2 linked regions of the Homo sapiens genome follow. The protein of the gene in region 2 interacts with the protein of the main gene of each other region in a pairwise test. Each region holds a gene or a part of one and is shown on either strand. Other genes may lie near its edges.

Region 1 (4,257 bases), on a different chromosome or scaffold from region 2:
TGGAAAAGGTGGGAAGACTGGGACCTGGAGGGGTGATCCCTGCCCAAAGTCACCTAGTTGGAGCAGAGCCAGAACTAGTATCCCCAGGTGTCCCAATACCTGGGCCAGTCTTCTCTGTAAGCACATGGGACAAGAAGCCTTCCTGGATGTAGCTCTGGGTACCAGCCTGGCATTGCAGCTGCCATCTACTTGGTGGCGAGCACCCTGCCAGGTGCTTTACATGCATTGTGCATTTACTCCTCACAGAACCCAGGAGATGTGCAGGGTTAGCCTCACTTTACAGAGGAGACTCAGAGGTGTTAAAACCAGAGTTACGGTGTCACAGTTTCAAAGAAAAGAACTGATCCTCTCCACTAGCATTAGATGATGCTAAGGGGGTGTAAAAATACAAAAAAACTGGTCCCTGCCTGCCCCTCAAGAGTGTCATGAGATGCCTGCACACATGTGGGCTCATGTGTGTGTATTTACATACATGTGCAGACATACAGAACACAATTCTGGAGCCCTGGGTCTCCTTCATGAACAGATGGGGCTGGAGTGGGGAATATTCTCCATGATCAGAGTCATTGTACTTCACTGGATCAGGCCTCCTCAAGGAGAGGTTGGATGTAGGATCTCTACAGCTTCTGGGCAGCTTCTGAGCAGGGTCTCCTGGACCCCATGGCACATGCCTGGGAGACCCATGGGGAGAGGCTAGCTGGGGCCTGTAGCCAGGCCTAGTCGCAGAGGTGCAACCCTGGTGTTCCTTCAGAAAGGAAATGAGAGGGAAGCCACTGCCCCATTCCTGGATCTGCCTGGGCCGCTGGATTTGGGGAGGGGGTTGTTGAGGATGGAGTCCCAAAGTGCTTCCGACCAGGGCCAGTCTGCAGGGCACCTCCCTCCTGCTTCCTCCCTCTTGATGTGACTCTTGTTTCCAGGGGCTGATGGTGGCCATATTATACTGCTTTGTCAACAATGAGGTAAGCTCTGAGGAGGGACGGTGGGGACCCTGGTGGGTGGGTACCATCAGCCCGTCTGGAGTAGTACAATGGGGACTCCCATCAATCTTGCCAGCTGAAACCCCCTACTCACCTCACTGAGGCACTAGGGTTGAGAAGCCATCTTGTCCACAGATTTGGTTTTCTGTGCATGGTCTCTCTCACACATGAACACACACACACAAGTACATGTACAGGTATACCCTAATGGCATGTGACCCTAAGGAAGACCCAGACTCATGTTAAGGGGATCCTGAATGACCCTCTTTGCTTGGTGGTAGTGACTGTCACTTACAAAGTGATTCAACACACACATACCCAAGCCACATGCTTGGGGCTTTAATAATCACTATCTCATTTAATTATGACCCCCACATCCCTCAAAAAAAAACCCTGCTAAAATTCTTATTTCATATTCCCATTTTTTATATATACATGAAAACACTGAAGATCAGAAAGAGTCAGGAACCTGCCCTAGGTTTGGAAATAGTGGCACACATCGCTTCTTAGCCTTTTGGCTAAGGTGAAGTGTGGAAATAGTGGCATGGCAGAGCCAGGATTCAAATTAATTCTGCATTAAAGCAGAAAGTACCCCATTCTTCATACACACAGGCAAGAGCCCTGGCTCACTGTGGGGAAGGGGGTGGCTTTCTGGTGCTAGGATGGGAGAAGGGGGTTCTCGCTGGCCCCACACACTCTCCTGAAAATGTCTGCAGGACAGCAGGCCTCCCTCCCATCCCTGAGATGGTCAGCTCCTGGGAGGAGGGCATGGCTGTGTTCATGGGCACCTGGAAAAGGCCCCTTCCACCAAGGTACTCAGCTTTGGAATCCCAGAGCTCAGGGATGTTGGAGTCAGCACATTAATAGGCTTGTCTTTTTCTATGGGTGTGGGGGATGCAGAAAGGACAGTGGGTGGGGACCTGGGTGTTTCAAGGAGCTATGAGATGGCTCAAAGAAGCAATGTGATGTAGCAGAAAAGATGCAAGGATGCAGGCTTTGGCATCTTATTTGGTCTGATCTGGGCCCCATCACTTAATGAGCTGTGTGACTTTGCCTAAGTTACCTGCCCACTCTGAAACTTAGTTTGCTCATTTACAAAGTGGGGATAATCCTGTGAGGATTAAGAAAGTCTGAAAAAGGTGCGAAAGGGGAACAGAGAACAAGTCCTTCCTTCAAGGTGGGATGCTGAAGGCCCATCCTAGCTCCTCACAGGTGCTGCTTGGCATGGAGAAACACACACCATTATCTCCAGATGCTCAGTAAGCAATCACTATTAGATCAGTATTCAGTGATTCCCAGAGACAGGGGCCTAAGGAATTTCAGAGGATGCCGTGCAGAGAAAATGAGGCTGGGTGAAAGGGAAGGGAGGGGAATGTTCCCTTGTCCCTGAGGCCTCCCCCTGCTTCTGCTGAACTGGCTACCTGTGGGAAGTGTGGCCCTCAGATCTCTAAATGGGAGGGAAACCAAGGTCTCTTAAGGGTTTACTGCATATAAGGTGCTCAGAGTGTCTCATTACATCCAATGCTGTGCAGCAGATGGTATCCCCAATTCACAGCTAAGAACGTTAAGCCTCAGCAAAATGAAATGAGTAGCCTAATTCAATAGACAGAAGATGGTAGAGCTAGTGGGCTGTGGCGGGGGCAAGATCCCACTTAATGCCTCAGGGAAGCAGGTGCTGGGGAGGTGAAGGCAGCGCCAGGCAAAGAGTGGCCCATAAATGGGATTCTGGCTGCTCCTGGGACAGGTCTTAGAGGACCCAGCGGCTCCGTTTGGAGGGTAGGGCAGGGAACAGGCTCGTGACCCACAGGAGGCAGTCCTGGTCCTCCTCCACTGCCATATCCTCAAAATGAGTTTCTTTAAAACTGATGCAAACGAGGAAGTGCAAAAACCTAAGCTCTGTGGGTGGCCTCCCCTCCAGGAATGCTCTCAGCCAGCTGGGTGATGCGCTACCCAGCCCTGAGCTCTGCTGCTTTCCATTCCAGCCCAGTGGTGATGGGGGCAAGACAGGGTGGCATGTATCCTGTGTGGGGATGAGGAGCAGAGGCCTGTAGGGAGAGACTGAGGCTCCCTGCTGCCACCTTGTCATCTTGACCCCCCCACGTCCCCGTTTCTCACTTCTCTATCCTCTGACACTGTCACTGCAGCCCTACTAGCAGACACGTGTGCTTGGCTTCCCCCCCGCCATTGTGAACAGTCTCCCCTGACCCCTGGCTCAGCTGCCTCTCCAGATTCCATCCTTCCAAGCCTAGTCATCTCATCACCTCCCTCCTCATGCACCACCTATGGCTGGCCCACCTTTGTAAGGGGATAGTACTTCTTTGCCCTTGGAAAAAAACTTGATCCTGAATCACCAGGGTTGCACCTCTCTGACCAGGCCTGGCTACAGACCCCAGCTAGCATCTCCCCGTGGATCTTCCAGGCTAGTGCCACGGGGTCCAGGAGACCCTGCTCAGAGAACGGGAGAACCTGTCTCCCTTCAGAGCACCAGCCAGTTCCTTTAAACCCACCCTGAGACTCCTCATGCCCTGGCTGCTCCAGGCACAAGGACAGATACATCATTGTCACTGGGCCACAAAAGACACATGTGGCTCTGGGGCTAAGGCCTCTGTCCACAAGAGCTGTTCTGCAGACCCAGGGTTGCCATGGCAATGCCAGGTACTTGTGACCTGAGGAGAAAAGATGGCTTGAATATTGGTTCTGTGTGGCTGCCAAGGCCTGCACCAGCTGCTGGTGGGCGTGAGTGGGGACAGGGAGGGGGAGGCCTGAAGGTGGTTTTGCTGTAGCTTGTGCCTGAGAGCCACAGTGAGGTGACTCAGAGCCCTGAGTGCTTGTCCCAGCCCTGCCACTGCCGAGCTGTGTGACCTGGGGCAAGTCATTTTGCCTCCCTTGCCTCTGTCTCCCCAGCCGTAAATGAAGGTGAATGAGCTTCCCAATTCACCCCGAATCCTGAGGCTGGCATGGTGCCTGCTGGAGAGGGAGGTCAGGAGGGGTGTGCTGCACTGCAGAGGTCGAGGGCAGGGATGAGGATAAAAATCCGATGGTGGAGGAGGAAGTGTGGTGGCCTAAGTCCCAGCCCAGGTGCTCAGAATCTGTGGTGTTGTCTTTGTGGGTTCATTTTCATAGCTGAGGAACAGAAGGAACCTGATGTGAGATGCTCATGCATTTATGTGTTCATTCATTTGGTTCATTTAAAACACATGTACTGAGCACCTGCTGTATGCTGGGCACTGTGCTAGGTTCAGGGATGCTGAGATGAAGAAGATGTGGTCCCAGCCCTCGA
Region 2 (5,573 bases):
TGTGATTACTTACAGTAATATAAATGTAAAAAAATAAGCAAAATATTGCCTGTAATCTCAGCACTTTGGGAGGCTGAGGTGGGAGGATCATTTGAGCTCAGGAGTTTGAGACCAGCCTGGGCAATATAATGAGACCCCCATCTCTAAAAAATAAATGAAAGGATAAATAAAAATAAATAAGCAACATGTATCACTCTGTTAGAGTCTATTAAGAGTTTTGCTCTGCTATCAGAAACCTCTTCAGTCACTGACAGTTCATCTAAGAGTTAGTAAGGCTGGATTACAAACAGGAAAGAGTAAAGAAAGGGTTTTTTTTTTTTTTTTTTTTCTTTTTTTTGAGACAGAGTCTCGCTCTGTTGCCAGGCTGGAGTGCAGCGGCCTGATCTCGGCTCACTGCAAGCTCCGCCTCCTGGGTTCATGCCATTCTCCTGCCTCAGCCTCCTGAGTAGCTGGGACTACAGGCACCAGCCACCATGCCCGGCTATTTTTTTGTATTTTTAGTAGAGATGGGATTTCACTATGTTGGCCAGGATGGTCTCGATCTCTTGACCTCGTGATCCACCCGCCTCGGCCTCCCAAAGTGCTGGGATTACAGGCGTGAGCCACCGCGCCCAGCCAAGAAAGAGTTTTGTAAATAAAATTTTAAATTTTAAATTTTAAATTTCAGCTTCTTTTCAAAGCAGCTGAAAACACACTTTCCTTCCCCATCCTATTTTCCCTAAGCCCATCCAACAAAGTGCCAGACTGAAAAAAATAAGATGACTGGTTAAAGTTGAAATTTAATAAAAATCCTATGATATATATTTTTTCAGATGGCAGGTCCTGCAATTAAAAGTATACCTGACCAGGCATGGTGGCTCACGCCTGTAATCCCAGCACTTTGGCAGGCCTAGATAGGAGGATTAATTGAGGCCAGGTGTTTGAGACCAGCTTGGGCAATATAGTGAGACCTCATGTCTAACCACAAAAAAAATTAGCCAGGCATGTGGGCCTGCACCTGTCATCCCAGTTAAGTGAGAAGCTCAAGTAGGAGGATCACTTAATCCAGCAGTTCGAGACTGCAGTGAGCCATGACTGCACCACTGCACTCCAGTCTGGGTGACAGTGTGAGATCGTGTCTCAATCAATGAATCGATCAATAAATATAAAAGTATACCTGCTTGCTTGGTGGTGGAAAATGGGCATCTTTATCTTGGTTTCCACGAGCAGACGCTGAAGCCATGATGACTTTGTGCTTGCTCTCCTTCCAGTTGTTTATCCTCTGCTTACTCCTTGACCCAGTGTCTAAGGAAGGTAGAAGAGAATCACTATGCCATGACTAAATGTTTGCATCAAGCTTAAAAGCATCCTGAGGATCCACTGGAGTTATTTGGAAAATGTGTTTTTCCTTTTGTCATTAGTCCATCTGCAAACTCAACTTCCAGTGCTCCTCTTCCACCAGCACACATACATGCACTCACTAATGGGGACAGATCAGATTTAGAATAGAGTGGAAATACCACACTGTGCACTGAGTGTCGATTATGTGCCAGGCCAGGGGATATGAAGAAGGATAAGACAAGATCACCGCTGTGAAGGAATTCACAGTCCAAAAGGGGAGATAGACAAGTCAACAGTTACACAACATGAAAAGTATGCATGGGATGCTAAGGAAGAAAAGAAAGCAGGGTCCATTCCATCTAGTCATGTCACAAAGGAACTAGGACTCCTAAGCTTTCAGGAGGATCTGTGGAGGGTAGATGGACTCTGGGGCAGGAGGACCAGGTTGGAAGGTGGTACACTAGTCCAGACAAGGAGTTACAGGGACGTGAACAAAGACCCTGGTGGGAATTTAGCATCTTTGATAGAGATGCTAAATTTGGGTTTGGAAATGTTGGATTTGGGTGCCTGTGGGGGCAAACAGTGGAATTAGCCACTGTTAATATTTGACGATTTGGGTCTAGAGTTCCAGAACAGGGGTAGGCTAGAGAGATGAAGTTGGGAGCTGCCATCATAGAGATGAGAGTTAAAGCAGGGAACTTTAATAAATGTGTCTAAAAACAGTACTGGAGAATATGAACACTGAGCCCAAGGGAATATCGAAAAGAGAAGAAAGATTAAAAAAAAAAAAGCAGGCCAAGGAAATGACTGAGAAGGAATAGCTGATACAGAGGGGAGGGAATTTCTGAAGGAGGGAGTGAATCATCAACACCATCACATGGCTTAGAAAAGTGGACCCTGGATTTGGCAATGATGGACATAATCCAGGTGGACTTTGAGCCTCCTCCTGCCCCCAGTGGCCACTGCATTCTGCAGCCCTGAACTCTACCTCTACCTCTGCTTTTCTTCTGCAAAATGAACCTCTTATATACAATTCTGTTTCCTACATCAGTTACTAAACTTTGAGGCATTTGAGCCAAGGGGACCCGTACTCGCACCAAGTTTCATCACAGGTGTCTAATGTGATTACAGGGGCAGCACGGTGCCCTGCACGGGAAAGTACTGGGGTCAGAGAGACCAGAGTTCAAATCGTGACTCTTTACCCCTGCGATCCCTTTGGTGCAAATGACTTAATCCGTCTCTGCCTCAGCTTTCTCCACTGTTAATTGGGCATAATGGACACAACAATGGTGAGGGGCTCTTGCAGGAATGAAGACTAGGATGAGGATGAGGATGAGGGATACGTCCATAAAGCCCCTGCACACCTTCCATTTCCTGAGCACTCCCAGGAAGTCTTTGCTGACCACGCCAAATTAGATTATCTTTGCTTAGCCATTAGGCCGCTGCCCTATATTGGGAGGCAAATATACCTCTCAGCTTCGGTGGCCAGGTCCCCTGGCACCCACTTAGTCCTCAGTCTGCACCTAAAAGCAAGCCTTCCGAGGGTCTTGCCTTGCAGGTGTAGCTCCCACCCCCCACGCTGGGGTGGTCCGGGGACCCTCTGTTTCCTCAGTGGTGGGGAAGGGACCCGTGGGTTCGTGGGTGCTGACCGACGAATGTGCGGAGGAGGGCGCGCCCCAGCATGGGGGGCGGGGGTGCTTCTTAGGATGGCTTGGAGGGGGGCGCCTGCAGGGCTGGACGGCGGACGGGGGACACTGCACTTTCTGATGCGGTCGGGGAAGCCGGGAGTCAGCCTACTGGAGTCCGCTGCCATCCCTGGCCAGAAGCAGCCAGCGCCACCCCAAGCTCCCCAGCCCCTCGCCCGTGCCGGGGCCGCCGGGGTCCGAGTTAGGGGAGAGTGGGGGGCGGCCACCGCTGCACCGCGCGGCCTTCGAAGGACTGCCCTGCGGCGCCGCGTTCCCCCGAGGCCACCCCCTCCCGCCGTCAACACTCCCCGGGGCGGGGGCTCACCTGTGTGGTCTGGGTCGCCTCCGAGGCCGAGTCCCTCGTTGCCAAGCCCAGCAGGCCTCGCTCCCCCGTGACTGCACCGCCGGCCCGCTCCAGCTTCCCGAGTACCCCACCTGTCTCCCCGGCTTCCTTCCGGCCCTTTGTGTTTTCTTCTCTTGCTCCGCCCCCTCGCCTGCCCGCTAAGCACTTAAGCTGGTGAAGTCACCCTACTGCCACCTGGCAGTCACTTTCGCTGTTGGTGGCAACCCAGGCTGGAACCCAGCTCTTGCCGGAACCCCTGCCCCATCCTTGAGGCTTGTCCCGACACCGAGTAGGTTCTAGTTCCTTTGTGCCTTCCAAATGACTCCCTTCCTCCAGCAATCACAGCCGCAACAGCCATGTATTGCGCCCCCGCCCTAGGCCAGGCGTGGGCATCACCTTTGCACTCCTTTCTGCAGCCGTGTGTGGTGCCCACTGTGACCTGCACTTCACAGACGGGTCATCTGAGTTGTGCAGGCCACTAAGGGAGCCTGGAGTCAACCCCAGGCCTGCTTGGCTCCCAGGCCTTCTCTTTCCATTGCTCTTTGTCGGTCCCCTGCTGCCTCCTGTCCCTCCCCAACTCTGACTTGTGGAGGGAAGCCTTTGACATGTGGGGGTACCTTTAATACCGATATCACTTGTTACCGGAGAGGGGTCCCGATCCAGACCCCAAGCGAGGGTTCTTGGACTTCTCGCAAGAAAGAATTCGGGGTGAGTCCGTAGAGTGAGAGCAAGTTTATTAAGGAAGTATAGAAAACAGGCCGGGTGCGGTGGCTCACGCCCATAATCCCAACACTTTGGGAGGCAAAGGCAGGCAGATCACTTGAGCTCAGGAGTTCAGACCAGCCTGGCCAACATGGTGAAACACTCTCTCTACTAAAAATACGAAAAGTTAGCCAGGCATGGTGCTCTATGCCTGTAATCCCAGCTACTCGGGAGGCTGAGGCAGGAGAATCGCTTGAACTCCGGAGGCAGAGGTTGCAGTGAGCCGAGATTGCGCCACTGCACTCCAGCTTGGGCGACAGAGCCAGACTCTGTCTCAAAAAAAAAAAAAACAAAAAAAAAACAAAAAACAAGAAGAACAACAACAAAAAAGAATGGCTACTCCACTGGCAGAGCAGCTGTGTGGGCTGCTTAGCTAATTATACTGGTAGTTATTTCTTGATTCTATGCTAAACAAGGGGTGGATTATTCATGAATTTTCCAGGAAAAGGGTGGGCAATTCCCGGAACTGAGGGTTCCTTCACTTTTTAGACCATATAGGGTAACTTTCTGACGTTGCCATGGCACTTGTAAACTGTCATGGCCCTGGTGGGAGGGTCTTTTATCAGGCTAATGCATTAAAATTAGCATTTAATGAGTAATGAGGACGACCAGAGGTCACTTTCATGACCATCTTGATTTTGGTGGGTCTTGGCTGGCTTCTTTACTGAGTCCTGTTTCATCAGCAAAGTCTTTGTGACCTGTACCTTGTGCCAACCTTCTATCTCATCCTGTGACTAAGAATGCTGAACCACCTGGGAAGGCAGCCCAGTAGGTTTCAGCCTTATTTTACTCAGTCCCTATTCAAGATGGAGTGGCTCTTGTTCAAACACCTCTGGACACAGTTACCCCAGCCATGGCTGACAAAGTTTTCTGGGCTGAGCTGCCAGGACTGACTGAGTGTGTTGACTTGGAGAGAGGCTGTGGATCTCCACTGAAGGCCCTCTTCATTTCTCACCTTTTCCTATTGTGCGAATTGGTCCCTGTACCTGTGGCCGCTTCCTCCTCACGCCTCCCCGATCCACACCTCCAACTTGTTGTTTCTCAGATTCACACAGCTCTTTTCCACTGGAGGCCCTCCCCTGCCTGCAGCCTCTCCCGATTGGTCCTGTCCTGGCTTTTTCCTACTCCTTCTTTTTGACTGTTCCTCAGGAAAATCTTCCTTGACCCCAGCCTAAGGCAGGCCTTTCTTCTTTTTCATAGCACAGGACACTATTGTTTTCCTTCATAGCACTTATCACAACTCATTATGTACTTATTAGTGTGTTCATTTATATAAAGCATATTTTCCCTGCTGCAGAGTAATCTTCATGAGGTTCAGAACAAGATGGTGTCAGTTTTGTTCACCATTGTGTAGCATCTTGGATATAGAAGGGGCTCAATAAATATTTGTTGAATGAATGAATGAATGAATGAATGAATAAGTGAGCCTAGGTTCAATGACTGTCAAGATACTGTTGTTTTGG

Evidence for each region. The genes of interacting proteins can lie anywhere in the genome.
Region 1: the proteins of OCIAD2 (region 2) and GLP1R interact in a protein complementation assay, tested with the Homo sapiens proteins (one large-scale study listed by BioGRID).

Annotation. Positions count from the first base shown.
Region 1 is NC_000006.12:39,079,781-39,084,037, forward strand, and holds part of GLP1R (glucagon-like peptide 1 receptor precursor), read left to right. Parts: intron 1-917; coding exon 918-959; intron 960-4,257.
Region 2 is NC_000004.12:48,903,328-48,908,900, forward strand, and holds the start of OCIAD2 (OCIA domain-containing protein 2), read right to left. Parts: upstream 3,448-5,573; 5' UTR 3,331-3,447; intron 1,308-3,330; exon of another isoform or gene 1,285-1,307; 5' UTR 1,223-1,284; coding exon 1,157-1,222; intron 1-1,156. UniProt on the Homo sapiens protein: Has an essential role in the assembly of mitochondrial respiratory chain complex III. Is also required for STAT3 activation and plays a role in cell migration.